3 linked regions of the Homo sapiens genome follow. The protein of the gene in region 2 interacts with the protein of the main gene of each other region in a pairwise test. Each region holds a gene or a part of one and is shown on either strand. Other genes may lie near its edges.

Region 1 (7,571 bases), on a different chromosome or scaffold from region 2:
ACTTTGGGAGGCCAAGGCGGGCAGATCACCTGAGGTTGGGAGTTCGAGACTAGCCTGACCAACATGGAGAAACCCCGTCTCTACTATAAAAAAAAAAAAAAAATCAGCTGGGCATGTTGACGCGTGCCTGTAATCCCAGCTACTCAGGAGGCTGAGGCAGGAGAATCACTTGAACTTAGGAGGCAGAGGTGGTGCCATTGCACTCCAGCCTGGGCAACAAGAGTAAAACTCCATCTCAAAAAAAAAAAAGTACTGGAAGATTTTCTTTTCCCTTCATTTGATGGCTTTTCTCCATTCAGAATTCACCTGTCAGCATTTTAGGAAATGAATTTAAGTTGTGAAACACTACTCAAACACTCTCAGGTTTGAGAGAAAATATATTTGGGAAGACCAAATCTGAATGTGGAAAAAGTTTTCTATCAACTTACATGCTGTCATACCAAAACAGATCATCCTAAGAGAGCAATCAACCAAGAACACTTTACACCTGAAAACATTTCTCTTACTGCAGTTCAGTTTCCTTCAGTGCTGAAAATGAGTATTAATCTGACAGTATTTGATACTTTATCAAGTAGGTAAGAGTAGTGCACCAGAACACAAACAAGAGCTGGCTTTAAAGCATTAACCAATCAGTATCCCAGGAAGCCAGGGACAATAAGCCATGTCAGAGTCAATGACTGAGGCCTGGCACAGTGGCTCACCCCTGTAATCCCAACACTTTGGGAGGCCAAGGTGGGCGGATTGCTTAAGCCCAGGAGTTTGCCTGGGCAACATGGCGAATTCCCATCTCTATAAAAAATACAAAAATTAGCCGAGCGTACTGGTGCACGCCTGTGGTCCCAGCTACTCAGGAGACTGAGATGGGAGGATGGCTTGAGCCCGGGAGGTCCAGGCTGCAGTGAGCCATGATTGCACCACTGCATTCCAGCCTCGGCGACAAAGTGACGCCCTGTCGGGTGCAAAAAAAAAAAAAAAAAAAAGAAAAATCCATACTAAGGAAATATATGGATGTGTGCCCAACTAGGATATAACCCTTCTTGTCATCAGTGGTCCCAACTGCTTCAACACTGTTGAGCAAGTTTTATGGGATCCAGCCTGACACATTTCAGGGACCCAGAAATGAATTTACAATTTGAGTCCTGTCAACCTCTTCAAAAACATTCAGTAGCCAACAAGACATGTACTGATGCAAGATCTTTAATAAATATGACTTCCTCTCTCTCCCAAAAGCAGTTATCTGGACAAGCAGTTTAAGCATCTCCAGTTTTTAGCTAGGGGAAATATGACTGAAGCCTTACTTTTTTGAGTCCATATCCAATTTGTAATAGAAAATAAAAAAACAGGATTGAAAAGCCAGTTACCCATGAAAAGCACACTCAAGAGCATTCCTATGGGGAGTCTGCCTCTTAAGGAAACATCAATACAGAGGACACTAACTTTGTAACGCATCCTAGGGCTTTAATCCTCACAGTACAGTATGTAAATCAATAAACGTACCAATTACATAGCTGTTACAGAACTTACAAAGTATACTGATCCGCAATTTTAAAAAAATCTAAGCCTACATTCCCTTCACCTAAAAGCCTCTCAAAGCAAATTCCAGCTTAAACGCTGGGTATCTACACTTGCAGAAAAATGTTCAAAGTAATGCACTACTAAATTTAGTTAATATTTAGTCCATGTAGTGAGTCAGAATGAGATTACCACTTAATAGGAATGAAATAGTTATACAATGTTACTAACTTCGCCACCTAAAAAGAAACACTATTTCATTAGTGGCAAACCTTACTTTTGTATAGCGATGGGGGCATTTGGAGGCAGGAGGCTTCTTCAGGTCAAGGAAAGCATCTCCACTTTCTGTTTCACCCATACTTCTCCTATCCATGGCTCCTTGGTCTACAATGCTCTGCACCTGGAAGATAAATCGGCACAAAATTGTCACCGAGAACAGTAAGTTTTCAGAAATCTTGGCTGTTTCTTCAGAAGCTGAAACTTTTTAATCTCTCAAAACAGCTAGTGTTAAAAACAAGTCCCCACCCCAAAATTATGCTATAAATTAGAACTTGGAGATAGAATCATTGGTACTCAGTTCTCTTTCCTAGTATCCTAAGCATCAACATGGTAAAAAGTAGAAGGTGCCCAATTCAAGGTATATAACCTTTAAGCAGCTTTAACACAAGAGAAACCAAGATTAGTAGCTGCCACCCATGGGGATCTTTCAAGACTGGTGGGGAAGTTTCCCGGAGTGGGGGCAGGTAGAAGACTGGTTAGGCTGGGAACCCGCGAAGTCTGTTGGAAAGTGCCTGTCACTTGCCAATGGACGGCGCCAGCTGCCCCTTGTTATCCGGCGATCAGGGACTGGGGACGGGGCCCGAGCGCCCCTCGCCAGGCCAGCCGCACCTGTGGCCATGTCAGGGGCGCCGATGGCAAGGAAAGGGCGAGCACCGGCTTCAGCTCCGAAACTTGGCTTCCCCGGGCCGCGACCCCAACCCGCAGCCCCTCACGCAGGCCCGGGCCCAGCGGCCTCCTTCGGAGGAAGGGCGGAGACCGTACTCACTGAGGGGCGGCCGGCCGCAGGGAGGAGGGAGGCCGAATCTCCCGGCCCGGGCGCTTCAAGCTGGAGCTAGCGCAGGCCCGCAGCCGTCCTCCCCGGCCCGGCGGCTCGGTCCCCGCCAGCCAGCCCGCCGGCTACCCGCCGGCCGCCTTGCGGGCCTCGCGCCCCTGCCCACCCCCTGCGGGCGCCCCGGCGCCCGCGCTCACGCACGCGACCCCGGGAGCAATGCGCCCGCGCCCCTTCTACACCCGGGAGCACCGGGCGCGCGGTGCCCCGGACCCAGCCGCCACCGCCGCCGACCCTTACTCGGTGCCTCCGCCGCTCGGCGGCCCTTTGCCTCGGCCGCCGCTCCCCTCCCCGCTGCCCGCACCGGTCCCAGCGCCGCTCCCCGCAGCCTTCGCTCTCGCGCCCCCACCCCGACCGGCTTGGGCTGTCTCTCTTCAGCCGCCGTAACTGCAGCCCGGCCCTCCGCCCCTCCTCTTCGGCCCCCTCCCCCTTAATAACTCCCTCCACGCACCCTGGCCCCGGCGCCGCCTTCCCCGCCGCGCGCCCGGATGTGAGGTGGCTGCAGCGGTGCCGGGCGAAAAAGAAGCATCGCCGCGCGCTTCCCGGACGCCAGCCCCTGCGCGGGCCGGGGGGTGGGAAGGTGGTGGCGGCGAGGAGGAGGCCACGGTGGGGATAGCGGAAACCCGCTCCCGTGCGCGCAGGCGGTCGCCGTGGGCAGCCCAGAGGCCACCGCCGCCGCGTTCCCACGCGCGCTGCAGGGCAGAGCGGACGGCACTTGGGACCCGCGACTCGCGGCACGCCACTCTCCCGGAGGCGGTGGCTAGATGGGGCTGGGCTGGCGGCTAGCACGGCCTGTGGCGCGACGACCGCTGTATTTGCATGGTTCGCATAGGCAGAGAACCGTGGGGCTTCGGCAGTGGGAATTTGAGATAGGAGATTGGGGTCTTCCGAGCCTTCCCAGTGCGGGTTCGAACCTCAGCTGTTTTGCGAGTGGCGTGATCTTAGGCAAAGCTGACTTAACCTAAGTTTCGGTCGTGTTTCTAAAATGGCCTCTGTAAATCTATGAGGCTTATGCGCGAGTACTGGTTGCTGCATTAAAAGACAAACTTGTCACGATTGGCTTTGATAGCGATAAAGGCGACTAACAAATTCATTGAAATGTTGTTTCCCTCCGGTAACCTGAATCTGTCCTTAGCCTGCACAGAAAGGGGAAGTGCGAGTGGAGTTGGGGAAATGAGACGGCGAATGTCAAGTGCTTACCACGTAGTGCAGACTCAGGCTGACAGGGGGCCACAGAAATGCAAATATGTGAGCAGTGTGGGTAACTGCATCCTGGGGAGGAAGTCCTATGTGCTGGAATACCACAAGCACCCATTTCTGCCCTGTGGTACTGCGCAGCGTTGGTGTGAAGCGATACATAGGCGTGAAGTCCCGAGAACGCAATTTTCCTGGTTAAAGGACAGCAACGTCTACATTTCTTCCAAGAGGCCTACTTTGTTGGAACTTCACTTCACTTGTGAAATTAGGGTGTTGGGCAGTGAGTGACCACTAACTCAGCTCCCTTCTTGTGAATCTTGGCAACAGAAAACTTTTCGTTTGTATTACTGAATAAAGTGTGTTTCTTACAAACTGTTTTTTTACAGGCAAGAGGCAGAGGGAAACACTTGCACATCAGGCCTGAGTTTGCATTCTCATCTCTGCCACCTCCTACAAGCTATGGAGAGTTAGTCTATTGATTCTTAGTTTTACCTGTGAAATTGCGAAGATGATATAACCTGCTCATGGGGCAGTTAAGATTAAACAGGATAAGGTGGGTAAAAAACCATATATAACCCATAAAGCTGCTGAGCCTTTTTAAGCCTATACAGAGACACGTTGCAGGTGATAATACAGATGTTATTATTTTAACAATCAAGCTGTTTTTGGAATCCAAATTCTTCCTAAAGCTGTGGGAAACAGGTCTAATCCCCTTTAGTGTCTTGGAGACTCCCTGGAGTAGTGGAGAAGGCCCGTTCTTTGAAGCTGCTAAATCCTGACCCTGCCAATTAGTGTGAAACCTGAGCCAGGCATTTCACCACCTGGATCTCCCTTTCCTCATTTTTCCGAAAGGGATCGCAGTATACCTACTTTTTAGGCTTGCAGAGGGAATTAAAGATAACATTAAAAACACTGCTCTGGTTATTTTATTTTGGGGGTGATGAAGTCTTGCTCTGTCATCCAGGCTGGAAAGCAATGGCACAATCATAGCTCACTGCTCCAGCCTCAGCCTCCCAAATAGCTGGGACTACAGGCTCCTGCCACTACAGCAGGCTAATTTTTAACGATTTTTTGCAGAGACGGGATCTTGCTATGTTGCTCAGGCTGGTCTCAAATTCCTGGCCTCAAGTGATCCTCCTGCCTCAGCCTCCAAAAGCACTGGGATTACAGGCATGAGCCACCACACCTGAGCTTTCTTGAAAAAGAAAATACTAGAAACCCGGAAATTATGGATTTCTGGTTACCTACTGTTACGTAACAAACCACCCCAGAATTCCAATTATATTTTGCTCTCAAATCTGCAAAATGGGCTGGTTCCTGCTGGGACGGCTGGTTTCTGATCCATTCAGCACCAGTGGGGGCAGCCCAAAGGCTGGGGCTGAGGGTCCCGTAAAAGCGTACATGTCTGGTGGTTGATGGTGGCTGTCAGCTAGGACCTGGGACCATTAGAGCTGTCCCTGGAACACTTACACATGGCCTCTCCCTGTGTCTGAGCTTCCTTGAAATATCAGGGCTGGATTCTAAGGGCAAGTGTTCAGAGAGCGAACAAGAAAGCCATATAGTTGCTGTATTGCCTTTCCTAACCTAGCCCTGGAATCAGTTCTACCACGTGCCACATTCTGTTCCTTAGAAAGGAGTCAGCACGGCTACCCTATATTCAAAGCAAAGGAACTTAGACTCCACCTCTATGTGGGAGGAATGTCAAGGAATGTGTAGGCATGTTTTAAACCACCACAAGCCATACATGATATCAGTGCCCAGGGCATTGTAGCTATCATGATTTGATAGCTGGAACTAATTTCCTGAGCCCTCTGGTCTATCCTACTTAGGACCTACTTTTCCACTAGGCTCCTTTAATGTCTTGTAGAACTTTGGCCTCAACTCATTTCTTACCTCTCAAAGTCTCACTCTGTCCTTATAGAAGAAGATGGTTATTACCTAGGAAAAAAGGTAATAATCTAAGGGAGGCTTCCCTAAACTTCTTTCACCTGTGCCTGGCAAAAGCTAGATGCTTACAAATTGCAAATTCTTGTTTCATTGTAGTTTTTGAGTGTTACTCTCCTTGGCAGGATAATTTTTATTTTTATTTTTTATTTTTTGAGAAGGAGTCTCGCTGTATCGCCCAGGCTGGAGTGCAATGGTGTGATCTTGGTTCACTGCAACCTCTGCCTCCCAGGTTCAAGTGATTCTCCTGCCTCAGCCTCCTGAGTAGCTGGGATTACAGGCGCATGCCACCACGCCCAGCTAATTTTTGTATTTTTAGTAGAGACAGGATTTCACCATGTTGGTCAGGCTGGTCTCAAACTCCTGACCTCATGATCCGCCCACCTCGGCCTCCCAAAGTGCTGGGATTACAGGCATGAGCTACCACGCCCGGCCTGATAATTTGTAATTTTTTTTTGAGACGGAGTCTCGCTCTGTCGTCCAGGCTGGAGTGCAGTAGCGTAATCTCGGCTCACTGCAAGCTCTGCCCCCTGGGTTCAGGCCATTCTGCCTCAGCCTCCCGAGTAGCTGGGACTACAGGCGCCCGCCACCACGCCCGGCTAAATTTTTTATTTTTAGTAGAGACAGGGTTTCACCACGTTAGCCAGGATGGTCTCGATCTCCTGACTTCATGATCCACCCGCCTTGGCCTCCCAAAGTGTTGTGATTACAGGTGTGAGCCACCGCGCCTGGCCTATAACTTGTAATTTTTTGAGACCAAGTTTTGCTCTGTCGCCCAGGCTAGAGTGCAGTGGCACAATCGGCTCACTCAACCTCTGCCTCCTGAGTTCAAGCAATTCTCATGCCTCAGCCTCCCAAGAAGCTGGGACTACAGGCCTGTGCCACCACACCTGGCTAACTTTTGTATTTTTAGTAGAGATGGGGTTTCACCATGTTGGCCAGGCTGGTCTGAACTCCTGACCTCACGTGATCCCCCAACCTTGGGTTCCGAAAGTGCTGGGTGTGAGCCATCGTGCCAGGCCAATAATTTGTAATTCTAAATGCCCCCTTCTGCAACTAATAACCAATTTTCAAGTATCAGCTTGGGAAAGCTCTTTGAGAGAGAAATTATTCTAGTTCTTTACTAAATATGTGTAAGATCTTGGTTTAGGTCTAAATTGTTGGCCCAAAGTTTGGCATAAGGGGTCTCAAAGGTTCAGTCAGTCGGGGAAATTAGCAGTCCAAGAACAGCAGAGAAGCAAATGAAAATACCAGAAACTGGCCGGACATGGTGGCTCATGCCTGTGATCCTAGCACTTTGGGAGGCTAAGGTGGGAGGATCACTTGAGATCAGGAATTCTAGACCAGCCTGGCCAACGTGACCAAACCCCGTCTCTACTAAAAATACAAAATTAGCTGGGCGTGGTAGCATATGCCTGTAATCCCAGCTACTTGGGTGGCTGAGCTAGGAAAATTGCTTGAACCTGAGAGGCGGAGGTTGCAGTGAGCCGAGATCGCGCCACTGCACTCCAGCCTGGGTGACAAAAGTGAAACTGTCTCAAAAAAAAAAAAAAAAGAAAAAAGAAAATACTAGAAACCCAGAAATTATGAGAGCACCTGTGAGAGAGTTTAATGCCAGGCCATGACCTTTCAGCAGCCTCATCACAGAAGGCTGGATTGCACCTCTCTAAATGGGCTTTTTCCTACTCAGTTTTTCTTGCTCCAAGAGTAACCCTTAGATTTTTTTTTTTTTCGAGACAGAGTCTCGCTCTGTCACCCAGGCTGGAGTGCAGTGGCAGGATCTTGGCTTACTGCAACCGCCCCCACCAGG
Region 2 (7,019 bases):
CTCAAAAGCATAGGCAACCAAACCAAAAATAGAAAAATGGGATTATGTCAAGCTAAAAAGCTTCAGGACAGCCATGGAAACAATCAACAAAGTGAAGAGACAACCCACAGAATAGGAGAAAATATTTGCAAAGTATCAATCTGACGAGGGATTAATAACCAGAATATATAAGGAGCTCAAACAACTCTGTAACAAAAAACCAAATAATCCAGTTTAAAAATGGGCAAAAGATCTGAATAGATATTTCTCAAAAGAAGACATACAAATGGTCAACAGAGATATGAAAAAATGCTCAATGTCACTAATCATCAGAGAAAAGCAAATCAAAATTAAATGAGATATCATTTCATCCCAGTTAAAATGGCTTTTTACAAAAAAAATAGAGAACATCTTTTTTTTTTTTTTTTTTTTGAGATAGAGTTTCACTCCTGTCACCCAGGCTGAAGTGCAATGGTGCAATCTTGACTCACTGCAACCTCCATCTCCAGGTTCAAGCGATTCTCCTGCCTCAGCCTCCTGAGTAGCTGGGATTACAGGCGCCCACCACCATGCCCGGCTGATTTTTGTATTTTTAGTAGAGATGGGGTCTCACCATGTTGGCCAGGCTGGTCTCAAACTCCCAACCTCAGGTGATCCACCAGCCTCGGCCTCCCAAAGTGCTGGGATTACAGGCATGAGCCACTGCGCCTGGCCAAGAATATCTTTTCTGTAAAAAGATGCTGGAGAAGACGTGGAGAAAGGGGAACCCTGATAAACTGTTAGTGGGAATATAAATTAGTACAGCTACTATGGAAAACTGTATGAAGGTTCCTCAAAAAACTAAAAATAGAACTATCATATGATCTAGAAGTTCCACTGCTGGGTATATATCTAAAAGAAAGTAAACCAATATATTGAAGAGATATCTGCCTTCCCATGTTTACTGCAGAGATATTCATAATGGCCAAAATATGAAATCAACCTAAGTGCCCAGAAGTGGATAAATAGATTAAGAAAATGTGATATATATAATATTATTCAGCCATAAAAAGAATGAAATCTTGTCATTTGCAACAACATAGATGGCACCATAGGTCATTTTGTTAAGTGAATAAGCCAAACACAGAAAAACAACTATCGCATGTTCTCACTTACATGTGGGAGCTAAAAAAGTGGATCACATGAAGATAGAGAGTATATTAGTGGTACCAGAGGCCAGGAAGTGTGGGGGGAGGACAAAGAGAGGTTGATGAATGGGTATAAACATACAGTTTGACAGGAAAAATAAGACCTAGGATTCAATAGATCAGTAGGGTGGCTACAGTTTACAATAATCTATTGTATATTTCAAAATAGAAGAGAATAATTTGAATGTTTCTAGCATAAAGAAATATTTGAGGTAAAGGATACCTAATGACATGATTTGATTTTTATAAAATATATGAATGTATTAAATTATCACATGTACCCTGAAAATATGTACATCTGTTATATATCAAAAGAATTTTTTAATTTCATGAATGTATTTAATGCCACTGAATTGTACGCTTAAAATAGTTAAAATGGGAAGTTTCATGTTACACACACATATATACATATTATTTAAAATAGTAAAGACGCTTGTGTTTTAAGCCTCTAAAATAGTGATGAACACAAGGGAGGAAACAGAAGGGGAAGACAGAGGAGAGGGGTATGGAAGGAGAATAGGGAAGTACAGAGTTGCTAAAGGGAATGGAATATGGGTGAAGAAGAAAAACCTTTAAAAGGGATTTTTAGAAAGATTTGCTGTGTAGTATAGATATAAGCCACTTCCTCTGAAATCTTGAGCAAATTCCATATTATTCACCAATTACTTTGGTGCTTGAGTTGCAGTTTTAGTTTTAAGTGCTGACGTGGATGAGAATGGCCTTGAGGCATCCGGATATATTTGGGTCACACTAATCTAAGCAGGAATTTGTGTCACTGTGGCTTTTCTCCATTTGCCCCTCTCCTGACCCCCTTGTCTTCTCATGCCCCTGAGGACACTCTGGGCCCTGAGATGTCCTCCACCCCCATCCTGCCCCTCACCTCCACGCAGCAGTGTGCATCCAGCGGGATAATGCCCCTTTTCTCTTTGCACTCTTCACTCCCAAAGTAGCAGAGGCAGCTGGGCTGCAGCTGGAACCAGCGTTCGGCCCAGTTCCTTCTCAGGTGCCCTCGCTTCCACAGGTAGCCCTGCCAGCCGGAGTTACGTCAGAGGCTTCCCAGGCCCCCCTTCGCCCTGCACCTTGTGTGCTTCCCCTAGTTCCCAGCTTGCCTGACCTGCTTCAGGACATCTTGGATGAGCTCCTGGTAGACCTCGTGGATGGCCATGCTGAGGGTGTCCCGGCCCACGCCCCGCAGGCAGCGGCCCGAATTGAAGAGCTCCAGGAACTGCCAGACGCTGAGCCCCCCGGTGGTCTGGGCCACCTGGGCCTCCTGGGCCAGAAGCTCCTCCAGCTCACCCAAGCTCACCTCCAAGCTCATGCTGCTGAGTACCTTTTTCAGCAGGTATTCCACCTGGAGCAGGAGAAGGAAGGCCTGGTAGCTGCAGCAGGTGGTGTTGCCAGCACCAACACCAGGGAGTGCTCTATCTGGCTCCCAGAGCCTGGGCAGAGGGAAACAGGGGACAGAGCGTTGAGGGGGCCAGAGGACCGAATGTTATGGAGCCAGGGAAAAGACCTGGGAGAGGATCCTGGAGCCCCAACCCCAACTCAGGTTTTCTCTCCCCGTCCACAACCTCCAGTCCCACTCCTTCCTGTCTTAAGGGCAAGGTGAAGGGGACCTGAGATCTGGGGTCCAGAAAGAGGCAATAAATCACAGAAAGTGTCAAGGGAGTGCAAAGGCCCTCTCATCCAATCACTCATTTTGCAGATGACCAAAAAAAAGCCCAAAGGGGGAAGTGACTGGCTCTAAGTCACACAGCAAACTGGGGGCAGCCAGAACCCGATTCTGATCTCCTGAATCCCATTCAGGTCCTTATTCCAAGCCCCAATCCCCAACCCTGGGGATCTTTCCCTTGTGGGAGAGGAAGGGGATTTGGGGTAGGGGTAGGCGTTGGGGAGTGGGGAGTAGAGGTAAGCTGGGCAGGGACAGGAAACCTGTTACAGAGGAACCGGAAGTGGTGGCTGGGGTACATCCTGCTGCAGTTGTTAACTCTGTATGTTGATCGCAGAAGCAAACAACCTCCTGGCCTCCGAGGCCACCTTGCCCTGACTGGCAGGGGTCTAACAAGGGCAGCCAGCCAAGTGTATGTGCAGATGGACACATGTCCCTCACCTGCCCCAGCAGCTTTTTGGGACACTCTGTTTAGGACTTTCTGGGGGATCCTGGGTCTTGTTTGGGTGTTTAGTAGAGGGCACTGGTTCAGGGCTCGGGTGGTTCCCTTCATCACCCTTCCCACAAACAGAAGCCAGGACAAATGTGAGTGGAGCTTGACATGCTAGGGCTTCTTGTAAGTACAGAAGCCCCCTCTCCTGTAAACCCCACTCTAAAGACCTAAAGTCACCCTGGCATCTCCACAGCCACCAAGAGGACTAAAGGGTCACAAGGCCAAATGGGCAGGGGAGGGAAGTGAGGATAAGAGGGAGGGTACAGGTGGATGGGAAAATGCCTTCCCTGGCTTCACCCAGGAGTAAGGAGATAGGGACCAGATTCCCAGCCTTTTCTCCCAGGATGCCCTATCCCTGGGTCTCTTAGCTGAGTTTGTCCTGGCTTTCCAGAAGAAAGGCAGAAAGGGAAAATCTGGAACCAGAGTAACCTCCTGTCTCAGAAAGGTCTCCCCTTGCCTTGTAAAGCATCCTTCCTGTCCTGGAAGAAGTGGCAAAAGGTAAAGGAAAAAAAAGCACCCTTCCTAGATTGCCAGTAATGCTCAGTAATGTATCTGGCATTTAGACCTCTGTGTAAACAGAATTTGCAGATCATTTTCCTACAGTGAGGACCAGCAGAACCCTCATGAAAGTGTAATTTCAGTTTTCCTGGAAGAAGGCAAAATTACTCTGACACAGGCAGTTCTAGGCATCTGGAGACAGCTGGGTGAGGACAGATACCAGCATGGGAAGATGGTAAAGAAAGAAAGGGGATATGGGAAGGCACCAAAGGTGGTTTGGTCTCATTCATGGTTTTGCTTAGGTCTGGTCCCAAGTGATTCAGTCCCTGGGGCTGCCATCACCCTCACCTCATCAGGAACCATGATCAGAGGGTACTTGTCCTCAGACAGGAAGTTGAAGAGGCACCAGAGGCGGAAGGCATCCTGATTGGAGAGCATACTGTTCCCGTTGCTATCTGCCCGATAGTTCTTCTTGGCCGTCAGCGTCCAGCACAGCTCATCAAAGTGCTCTTTAACAAAAGCCCCCTCCTCCACCTGCCACCAGGGCTGCAAATCAGCTGACTGCATATCTCAGCTCTACCACGACACTAGGCTCCAGCTGGGTTTCTTGGGTTCATCTATGCCCCTGCTCCCCACCTGGCCAAGTCCAGGGCCCTAACTCAAGGGATCCCTGAGCTGATTACCAGGTAACTAGCTGGTTCCAACCACTCCACCCTCCACAACACACCCACACCCACCCAGGCCCCCTGACAACAGATTAACTCTAGTCTTTCAGCCCAGAGGACAAAGAAGGAGAAACCCAGCAGGAAGCTAAGAGCCAAGAACCTGGAAACACAGTGACAGATTGGAGGAGTTGGAGGGGGAGTTCAGGGGGACAGTCTGGGAAGGGTGGAGAACCCTGGAAGCTGGAGGAGGGCCGGGCAGGGATTCGGTGGAAGGTTATGGGTAGGGTGGGGCCCACCTCATTAGAGATGAGGGACATTGAAGGTGAATTGAGGGGGACAGGAAGGGGGCAGGTGGCTGGGATGTGAGGGACGTGATGGGACAGCAGTCACGGACAGAGCAGGCAGAAGTAGGAGTTTATGGCAGGGGCGAAGAGTTGGAGTGGCAAGGTATTAGGCTGCTGGCCAGGCTGGAAAAGTGGGGAGAGGTTACAGATGCTCCCTACAAGCTGGGCCCCACCTTGTCCAGGATGTACTTGTTGAGGTAGGGCATGTATCCCTGGCTGGACACAGGGCCGTCATCATCATCTCGGAAGTGTTCCTCCAGGGCCACGGGGTCATGGGGGATGTGCAGGACCGTGTACAGGTTGTGGGACAGCACCTGGGATAGAGTAGAGTGGCAGTGTGTCTTTCTGCACCCCAACCAAAACTGGGCCAGAGGACTGCTCCCCACCTCTCTGCTTGTCCTCACCCCATCCTGGCTGAGTTCTCTACACACACTGTTCAGTTCAGTAATAACTAAAACTTATATACTATGTGCCAAGCACTGAGCTAAAGTACTTTACATATCATTTGCTTAACCACCATAACAACTACTCATATACCCATTTTACAAATGAAAACTCCTGCAGCCCTGAGATATTTCTCACCCAAGGTCACAGCTGGCAGAACTGGAATTCAAACCCATGCAGTTATACTCTTAGCCACTTCATTAGGTATTGGTGTCCTCTTTCTACAGACAGGGAGACTGAGGCTCAAGGGATTCAGTAACTTGCCAAAAGACCCACACTGAACAAGAGCTTGGAGTTCAAATCCATCTCCATCAGATTCCAAAGCCCAAGTGCTTCCCACAATGCTAGACAGTTTGCAGGGTTTGCAGGGACTTAGTCTGCCACCCCAGGGCAGAAGCTGCCAATTTATCATGGTTTCCATCAAAGACTCAGTGTCCTGGCTGCAGTGTGCCTATCACCTAAGCGTGTCTGCTCTGGGAGAGGAGAGGGCTCAAAGAAGGGTCATGAAAAATGGTCCATGACATGGAGAGGGCAAGGCTTAGAAGGGATAGTGGTCATAATGGTGTGCAGGGGAAATGTGGGTTTGTTGAACAAATCCATGATATTAGAATAAAGGGGTTGAAATCTGAAATCTGGTGAAAATAAAATCTCCTTGGGGTAATTCTATTATAGCATTTGTCACAAGCAGTGTAAATGATTAAAAAGTCACTAGTTACTATTGCACACTTACCATATGCCGGTCACTGTAGGAGGTGGTTTATTTAATTAAAACTGTTTTTTATTTTATTTTATTTTATTTTATTATTTTATTTATTTTATTTTATTTTATTTTATTTTATTTTATTTTATTTTATTTTATTTTATTTTGAGACGGAGTCTTACTCTGTCACCCAGGTTGGAGTGCAGTGGCATGATCTCAGCTCACTACAACCTCCACCTCCTGGGTTCAAGTGATTCCCCTGCCTCAGCATCCTAAGTAGCTGGGATTACAGGCACCCACCATCACATTCAGCTAATTTTTGTATTTTTAGTAGAGACAGGGTTTCACCATGTTGGCCAGGCTGGCCTCGAACTCCTGTCCTCAGGCGATCCGCCCACCTCGGCCTCCCAAAGTGCTGGGATTACAGGCCTGAGGCACCATGCCCGGCCAAAACTTTTTTTTTTTTTTTCGGTAGAGACAGAGGTCTGCATATGTTGCCCAGGCTGGCCTTGAACTGCTGGCCTCAAGTGATCCTCACATCTGGACCTTCCAAAGTGCTGGGATTTCAGGCATGAGCCACTACACCCAGTCAAAGCGCTTTTTATACCCCATTTCTAGTCTTCACAATCACCTATATACGCAAATATTATTAAGCCTGTTTTTCAGGTGAAGACACAGAGGTTTGGAAATTTTAAGAGTAAATGGCAGAGCTGAGGTTGAAACTAAATGTGCCTGGTTCACAGGTTGCCTTCCTACTAGAATACTGATGTCAAGTCTCCCTCCTCCGTTGGATTGTGAACTCTGGAGACAAGGTCTCTGTTCATCTTTATGTCCCTCAGCATCTATGTCCTCTTTTGTACATCAAGTGCAATCAATACATGCTATATTGAAGGGCTTCTTCCACCACCAGCAGTTCACCTTGGAATCAGTTCCTAGGAGGCAGGAGCTAGCACTGTCTCGGAGATGGTGTGTGTGCCAAGCCTTCATTTTATTCTCTTTTCAGAGAGGAGGGGGAGAAAGTATTGAGACTTTGCCTCAGT
Region 3 (7,210 bases), on a different chromosome or scaffold from region 2:
CATATATACATATATACACACATATATATACACACACACATATATACATACACACACACACACACACACACACACACACACACACACACACACACATATATATATATATATCGGAGTTTTGCTGTTGTCCCCCAGGCTGGAGTGTAGTGGCCCGATCTCGGCTCACTGCAGTCACCGTCTCTGGGTTCAAGCAATTCTCATGCCTCAGCCTCCCCAGTGACTACAGGCATCCATCACCACCATGCCTGGCTAATTTTTGTATTTTTAGTAGAGACAGGGTTTCACCATATTGGCCAGGCTGGTCTCAAACTCCTGACCTCAGGTGATCCACCCACCTCGGCCTCCCAAAGTGCAGGGATTACAGGCGTGAGCCACTGTGCCTGGCCAGGTATAGAATTTTAAAAAAACTTACATTTTAGGTTCAGGGGTACACATGCAGCTTTGTTATATGGTAAACTCATGCCACGGGGGTTTGTTGTACAGATTATTTTGTCACCCAGGTATTAAGCCCAGTATCCAATAGTTATTTTTCCTGCTCCTCTCCCTCCTCCCACCCTCCACCCTCAAGTAGGCCCCAGTGTCTGTTGTTCCCCTCTTTGTGTCCGTGTGTTCTCATCATTTAACTCCCACTTATGAGGGACAACATGCGGTGTTTGGTTTCCTGTTCCTGCATTAGTTTGCTAAGAATAATGGCCTCCAGCTCCATCCATGTCCCACGAAGGACATGATCTCTTTCTCTCTTTTCTTTTTTTTTTTGAGATGGAGTTTCCCTTTTGTTGTCCAGGCTGGATTGCAGTGGTGCGATTTCGGCTCACCGCAACCTCCGCCTCCTGGGTTCAAGCGATTCTCCTGCCTCAGCCTCCCGAGTAGCTGGGATGACAGGTGTGAGCCACCGTGGCTGGCTAATTTTGTATTTTTAGTAGAGATGGGGTTTCTCCATGTTGGTCAGGCTGGTCTCGAACTCCGGACCTCAGGTGATCCGCCCGCCTCAGCCTCCCAAAGTGCTGGGATTACGGGCGTGAGCCACCGTGCCCGGCCTTGATCCTTGATATTATTAATACTAAAGATAATAATCAGGTTGGGTGTGGTGGCTCACACCTGTAATCCCAGCACTTTGGGAGGCTGAGGTGGGCAGATCACCTAAGGTCGGGAGTTTGAGACCAGCCTGGCCAACATGGTGAAACCCCATCTCTACTAAAAAAAATAGAAAAATTAGTCAGGCATGGCAGCGCATGCCTGTAATCCCAGCTCTGTAGGGAGCTGAGGCAGAAGAACCGCTTGAACCCAGGAGATAGAGGCTGCAGTGAGCCGAGATTGCTCCACCACACTCCAGCGTAGGTGATAGGGCGAGACTCTGTCTCAAAAATAATAATAATAATAATAATAATCACCCCAGGGACATTTAATGAAGGCTTGTGCTGGGCATCAAGGCCTGGAATTCTGGCAACAATGAGAGGATCACTCCCATTTCCAGAGGTATTTCAAAAGGGCTGAACAGCTGGCTGTGCTCCTCTGCTACCAATCCTGCATGGCTTCCTGTGGCCTGGTCAAGCCCAGCTCACCTTGACTATGGGTGCCCCTTGCTCCTTGCACTCTTGCCCCACTGCCTTCTTTTAGTTGGCTCTGCCACTTAAAAGCTGTGTGACCTTAGGCAAATTACTTAACCTCTCTGTTCCCTCCTCTATAAAATGGAGATAATCCATAGTCCTTATTTCACAGACTAGTCCAGAGCCAACACGTTAGTAAGTGTAAAGCACTTACAACCATGCCTAGCTCAAGGGAAGCCCGTGTTTGCTATGATGTCATTATTACGCCATATTTCATCAAATCTAAGATGTTGGCCAGATGTAGTGGTGCACGCCTGTAATCCCAGCACTTTGGGAGGTCAAGGCAAGCGGATTGCTTGAGATCAGGAGTTCAAGACCAGCCTGGGCAACATGGTGAAACCCCATCTTTACAAAAAATACAAAAATTAGTTGGGTGGATGGTGGATGTCTGTGGTCCCAGATACTGAGGAGGCTGAGGTGGGAGGATCCCTTGAGCCAGGGAAGTTGAGGCTACAGTGTGTTGTGATTGCATCACTGCACTCCAGCCTGGGTGACAGAGATCCTGTCTCAAAACAAAAAACAAAAAAAAACTAAGATGTCATCGATTATAAAAATGTCACTAAGAAAAGAGAATGCTGCCAGTTAACGATGTCCCAAGGTTCTTTCATCACTAGAATTTTTCTTTTGTATTTCTCGAAAGAGCTCTGTTTCACTTAAATGTAGATTCTTATCATATATAATTCTCATGCACACATAAAAAGGATAATAGAAGCAAAATAAATTGGTTACCATGTTCAGAAAACTCCTTCACATTTAGAGTCCAACTTGTTTGAATCATTTTTGGTCTGAGAGTCGTGATGTCTGTGTCTGCCTGCCACCTCCTTCTCTGAGTCCTTGAGAGTTCTACGGAGAGCAGTACTGCTCCAAACATTCCATAAAACAGCCAGGCGCTCTTAAGCCAGCTTTACAATTGTGCAGATGAAGTGGAGCCGAGTTTTCACTCTGCTCTAGGAGTGTCACTGACAGGCCGGGCGTGGTGGCTCACACCTGTAATCCCAGCACTTTCAGAGGCCGAGGTGGGTGGATTGCCTGAGGTCAGGAGTTCGAGACCAGCCTGGCCAACATGGTGAAACCCTGTCTCTACTAAAAACACAAAAAAGCATCTGGGCGTGGTGGCAGGTGCCTATAATCCCAGCTACTCAGGTGGCTGAGGCAGGAGAATTGCTTGAACCCGGGAGACGGAGGTTGCAGTGACCCGAAATTGCACCATTACACTCCAGCCTAGGCGACAGACACAGCGAGACTCCGTCTCACCAAAAAAAAAAAAAAAAAAAAAAAGGGAGTGTCACTGACAAGCCTGGTTCCCTTCCCCTGGGGTTTCCCACCATTTGAGTCCCAGGGCTAAAAAGGGTTCTGCTTGCCTCTAGGATTTCTTCCAAGCTGCTGACACTCTTCTGAAGGATTTGATGCTGGTGCTTTTCAGGTGTGGGTCCTGACAGTGATGTTGGGACGGCAGCTAGCCAGACAGCAACTGTACCATGTAAACTCACTTCAGAGGTGTAGAATGGGGGCTGCGTGAGGCAGCTCATGCCGTCATCTCAGCCCTTCAGGAGGCCAAGGCGGGAGGATCACTTGAGCCCAGGAGTTCGAGACCAGCCCGGGCAACACAGCAAGACTCTGTCTGTACAAAAAACAAGCAAAATAATTAGCCAGGTGTGGTGGCACACACCCGTAGTCCCAGTTACTCAGAAGGCTGAAGTAGGAGAATTGCTTAAGCCCAGGAGGTTGAAGTTGCAGCGAGTTGTGATCTTGCAACTGCACTCCAGACTAGGTCACAGATTCAGACTCTGTCTCTTAAAAACAAAACAAAACAAAAAGTGAAACGTGAACATTAAGCATCTTGGAATAGATAAAACATGCATAATTTCCAATCTTTTTGCTGACCATGCTTCCAGCTGCCTCAGAGCAGTTGCACATTCTGTTCCTGCTGCCTGGAATACCCTCCCTTCCTTTCCACTTTGCCCTGTTAACCCAGCCATCCCTGATCTCATGCGTACTCCAGGATGCCTTCCCTGATCATCCTGCCGAGGTCAAATCCCCTCCCCTTCATAGCACCTAGTATGGCTACAACAGTCTCGAGTGTATAGAGGATGGGGTGGGGTGAGGTCACAGGAATGATGCTCCCTTCTATCTGGGGTTCAAGGGAGGCTTCTTGGAGGAGCATCTGAACCAGGCTTCCCAGGGGATGTGGTTTGGGTAACTTTGAGAAATACTGAAGGGAAAAGAAAGAACGCTGTAGTGAGTGAAGCCTGGCATTTGGGAAGATGGGTGTGTGGGTGACCAAACTCACCACGCAAGGCCCAGAGCCCTTTTGAGGCCCTCGAAGGTCCCAGGCTGGGGTCATCCTCTCCAGTTTCAGTTTGAGAAAACAAGGCCCAGAGAGGTGAAGGGCTGTTCGGTCATTGCCCATGGAGCCAGGGGAGCTGTGGGCCTTCCGCCGCCAACCTCTGGGCTAGCCCTGCAGAGATGCTAGGAGGATGCAGGGAGGTGAGGTGGGGGCTGAGGTAGGACTCAGACTGCCCAGGCCCGCCTGCACCCGGAAGGAGGAAGCTGCACAGGGTGTCTGTGGCTGGCCCCGGGATCCCCCACTCGGGGACTTCCTCTTCCTCTCAGGGCAGGTGCAGCTGCCACAGTGAGACGGGCACCCCGACCCGGGCATGGAGGGGGGCAAGGGGCCCAGGCTCAGAGACTTCCTGAGTGGGAGTCTGGCTACCTGGGTGAGGGGGCAGGTGGCAGCGGGTTGGGGAGGGGAAGTGAGCCCCAGCCAGGGGCTGGTGTTGGCGCTGGCCGGGGGAGGGTGAGGCAGAACCAGGCCGGAGGGGAGGGCTGGGTTCAAATGTGGGGGATGGAGATATGGTGTGGGGGGCTGTGGTGAGGGAAGAGGGGACAGAGGCACTCAGAGGACGGGTGAGAAGGGGTGCTTGGGCTCACTGGGGCAGGTCGGAGGGGCTCAGGGTTCACTCTGCTGGTCGGCTGACCCCTCTGGGCTCCTCACAGGCGCTGGGACTGGCCGGGCTGGTCGGGGAGGCGGAGGACTCGGAGGGGGAAGAAGAGGAAGAGGAGGAAGAGCCGCCCCTTTGGTTGGAGAAGAGATTCCTGCGCCTCAGCGATGGGGCCCTGCTCCTCCGGGTGCTGGGCATCATGTAAGGGGCATCGGGCCGGGGCGGTGGCGGGGAAGGATCTGAGAGGAGGGGAAGCGGGTGGGCGGAGCCTGATGCTCAGTGGGCGGGGCCTGAGGGACGGTGGGCGAGGCCTGTTGACGGGAGGCGGGTCCTCGAGCCCACCTCCGGCTCATAGTGCCCCCAGCTCCCGAGGGGGACCTCGGATGCTCAGAGGCCTTGACGGACCTGCTGCCTGGCGAGTGTGGAACCTGAACCACCTGTGGGGCCGACTGAGGGACTTCTACCAGGTAAGGGGTCTCGAGGGAAAGGCGGAGACAGGAGGGGAAGAGGAGCCCCTTCGGGAAGGCGCCTCATATAGTCTGCCTCTCTGCCTCCAGGAGGAGCTGCAGCTGCTGATCCTGTCGCCACCCCCAGACCTCCAGACATTGGGATTTGACCCTCTCTCAGGTGCTCTCCCCACCCACACCCTCCTGCCTCTGCCCCCGCACTACTCTACCTTCCCCGCCCCAGTTAACCCCTTGTGGCATGTGCCTTGCAGAAGAAGCGGTGGAGCAGCTGGAAGGCGTTCTTCGGCTACTGTTGGGAGCGTCAGTACAGGTGAGCCGGCGGTGGGAAGGAAAGGTTAGGGTCGAGCTTTGGCGGTAGAGGAGGGAGATCCTGCACCAGCTCCCCTTCCTGTCTCCCCTCAGTGTGAGCACCGGGAACTCTTCATCCGCCACATCCAGGGCCTCAGTCTCGAGGTCCAGAGCGAGCTGGCCGCTGCCATCCAGGAGGTACTGAGACGGTTCGGCAGCCCAGACTGGTATGGCACCTGGGACGCCCTTGCCACACCGCGGCTTCCACTGAACTGCTCTTCCTGCGCCCCAGGTGACCCAGCCGGGGGCCGGCGTGGTGCTGGCACTGTCTGGGCCAGATCCTGGGGAGCTGGCACCTGCCGAGCTGGAGATGCTGTCCCGGAGCCTGATGGGGACACTGTCGAAGCTGGCACGGGAGCGTGACCTGGGGGCCCAGGTAGGGGCAGCAGGGGCATCGTGGACTCAGGTTGGGGAACTGGAGGACCATCAGGGAGCCGGTTGTGCAAGGGAGATGGAAGTTTGGGGCCCAGGCATGGGGTTGTGGTCTGAGGTCTTGGGCCATCAGTGATGTCACAACCAGATGGCCCAAGACCCCAGACCACAACCCCATGTCTGGTGTTGTGGTTGGGGGTCGATGTGCAGAGGCATTGGATAAGTTAGTCCTGACCCTTGACCCCTGACCTACAGCGGCTGGCTGAACTGCTGCTGGAGCGAGAACCCCTCTGCTTGAGGCCTGAGGCTCCCTCTAGGGCTCCCGCCGAGGGCCCCTCGCACCATCTGGCCCTGCAGCTGGCCAACGCCAAGGCTCAGCTGCGGCGTCTGCGGCAGGAGCTGTGAGTGTGCGCAGCCTGGGAAGGGGACTGAGTGGAGAGGGGCAGATTAAGCCTGGATGGGACCCTAGCCCTGGTGGCTACGGGAGGGGTCAGGCCTGGGAAGGGCTGGGGGTTGTGGGCCCCCAGACCCTCCCTAGACTCCCCTTCCCTCCAGGGAGGAGAAGGCCGAGCTGCTGCTAGACTCCCAGGCCGAGGTGCAGGGTTTGGAGGCCGAAATAAGAAGGCTCCGCCAGGAGGTGCGCTCACATGCTCCCCGCCACCGCGGCATTCCCTAACCTCCCCGCACCCGGTCCCATTGCCTCCCTCCCAACCCGGCTCCTTCCCGTCCCTAATCCCTCTGGCCCGCGGCTGGCTGTTCCCAGCTCCACACCGTCTGGCCCAGGCCCAGGCGCTGTCGGGACAGGCCAAGCGGGCCGAGCTGTACCGCGAGGAGGCAGAGGCGCTGCGGGAGCGGGCCGGCCGCCTGCCCCGCCTGCAGGAGGAGCTGAGGCGCTGCCGCGAGCGGCTGCAGGCGGCTGAGGCCTACAAGAGTCAGCTGGAGGTGAGGCGGAGACGGAGCCGCGGGGCGGGGCGTGCGCGAGGGGGCGGGCCAGGAGGAGGGGCGAGATTGGGTCCCGAGGGCAGAGAGGCAGGTTCTCTGGAGGGGACAGTCACAGGTGGAGAAATGGGTGAGGACAAATTCAGGGAGGTGGCGTCTGGGAAAGGGCCTCCAGAGGATGGGGCAGGTGTAGGGGAGTGGGGGGGCTGTGTAAGTGATGCAGCCTTGGAAGGAGGGCTGTTCCCGGGGGGGAGGGGCGGGGCATGGACAGAAGGGCGGGGCCTGCACAAAGGGCGGGGCCAGGGGCGAGGGAGAAAGTACCTGAAGAGATCTTGGTGGGAAGAAGATGGAAGGGAGTGGCGGGGCCTAGAGACTGATGGGGTGCAGGGTGGGGGAGGGAGGCAGGGTCTGTGACAGGCTGAGGGGAAGGAGTTTGGGACCCTCAGGCGCTGGAGTGCATGGGGGCTGCGTGGCTACCGGTTCTCCCTGCTCTCCCACCAGGAGGAGCGGGTGCTCTCGGGGGTGCTGGAGGCGT

The links.
Region 1: the proteins of DEF6 (region 2) and EIF4ENIF1 interact in binary tests that used the Homo sapiens proteins (3 or more experiments, as listed by UniProt).
Region 3: the proteins of DEF6 (region 2) and CCDC88B interact in binary tests that used the Homo sapiens proteins (3 or more experiments, as listed by UniProt).

The regions. Positions count from the first base shown.
Region 1 is NC_000022.11:31,486,834-31,494,404, forward strand, and holds the start of EIF4ENIF1 (eukaryotic translation initiation factor 4E transporter), read right to left. Parts: upstream 3,010-7,571; 5' UTR 2,861-3,009; intron 2,724-2,860; exon of another isoform or gene 2,411-2,723; coding exon of another isoform or gene 2,315-2,410; intron 1,913-2,314; coding exon of another isoform or gene 1,886-1,912; coding exon 1,790-1,885; intron 1-1,789. UniProt on the Homo sapiens protein: EIF4E-binding protein that regulates translation and stability of mRNAs in processing bodies (P-bodies). Plays a key role in P-bodies to coordinate the storage of translationally inactive mRNAs in the cytoplasm and prevent their degradation.
Region 2 is NC_000006.12:35,307,800-35,314,818, reverse strand, and holds part of DEF6 (differentially expressed in FDCP 6 homolog), read right to left. Parts: intron 5,150-7,019; coding exon 5,009-5,149; intron 4,361-5,008; coding exon 4,175-4,360; intron 2,606-4,174; coding exon of another isoform or gene 2,518-2,605; coding exon 2,281-2,517; intron 2,194-2,280; coding exon 2,047-2,193; intron 1-2,046.
Region 3 is NC_000011.10:64,336,003-64,343,212, forward strand, and holds the start of CCDC88B (coiled-coil domain-containing protein 88B), read left to right. Parts: upstream 1-4,201; 5' UTR 4,202-4,264; coding exon 4,265-4,324; intron 4,325-4,538; exon of another isoform or gene 4,539-4,604; coding exon 4,605-4,750; exon of another isoform or gene 4,751-4,790; intron 4,791-4,904; coding exon 4,905-5,016; intron 5,017-5,106; coding exon 5,107-5,176; intron 5,177-5,267; coding exon 5,268-5,326; intron 5,327-5,418; coding exon 5,419-5,502; intron 5,503-5,596; coding exon 5,597-5,740; intron 5,741-5,846; exon of another isoform or gene 5,847-5,902; intron 5,903-5,991; coding exon 5,992-6,137; intron 6,138-6,291; coding exon 6,292-6,373; intron 6,374-6,519; coding exon 6,520-6,678; intron 6,679-7,176; coding exon 7,177-7,210. UniProt on the Homo sapiens protein: Acts as a positive regulator of T-cell maturation and inflammatory function.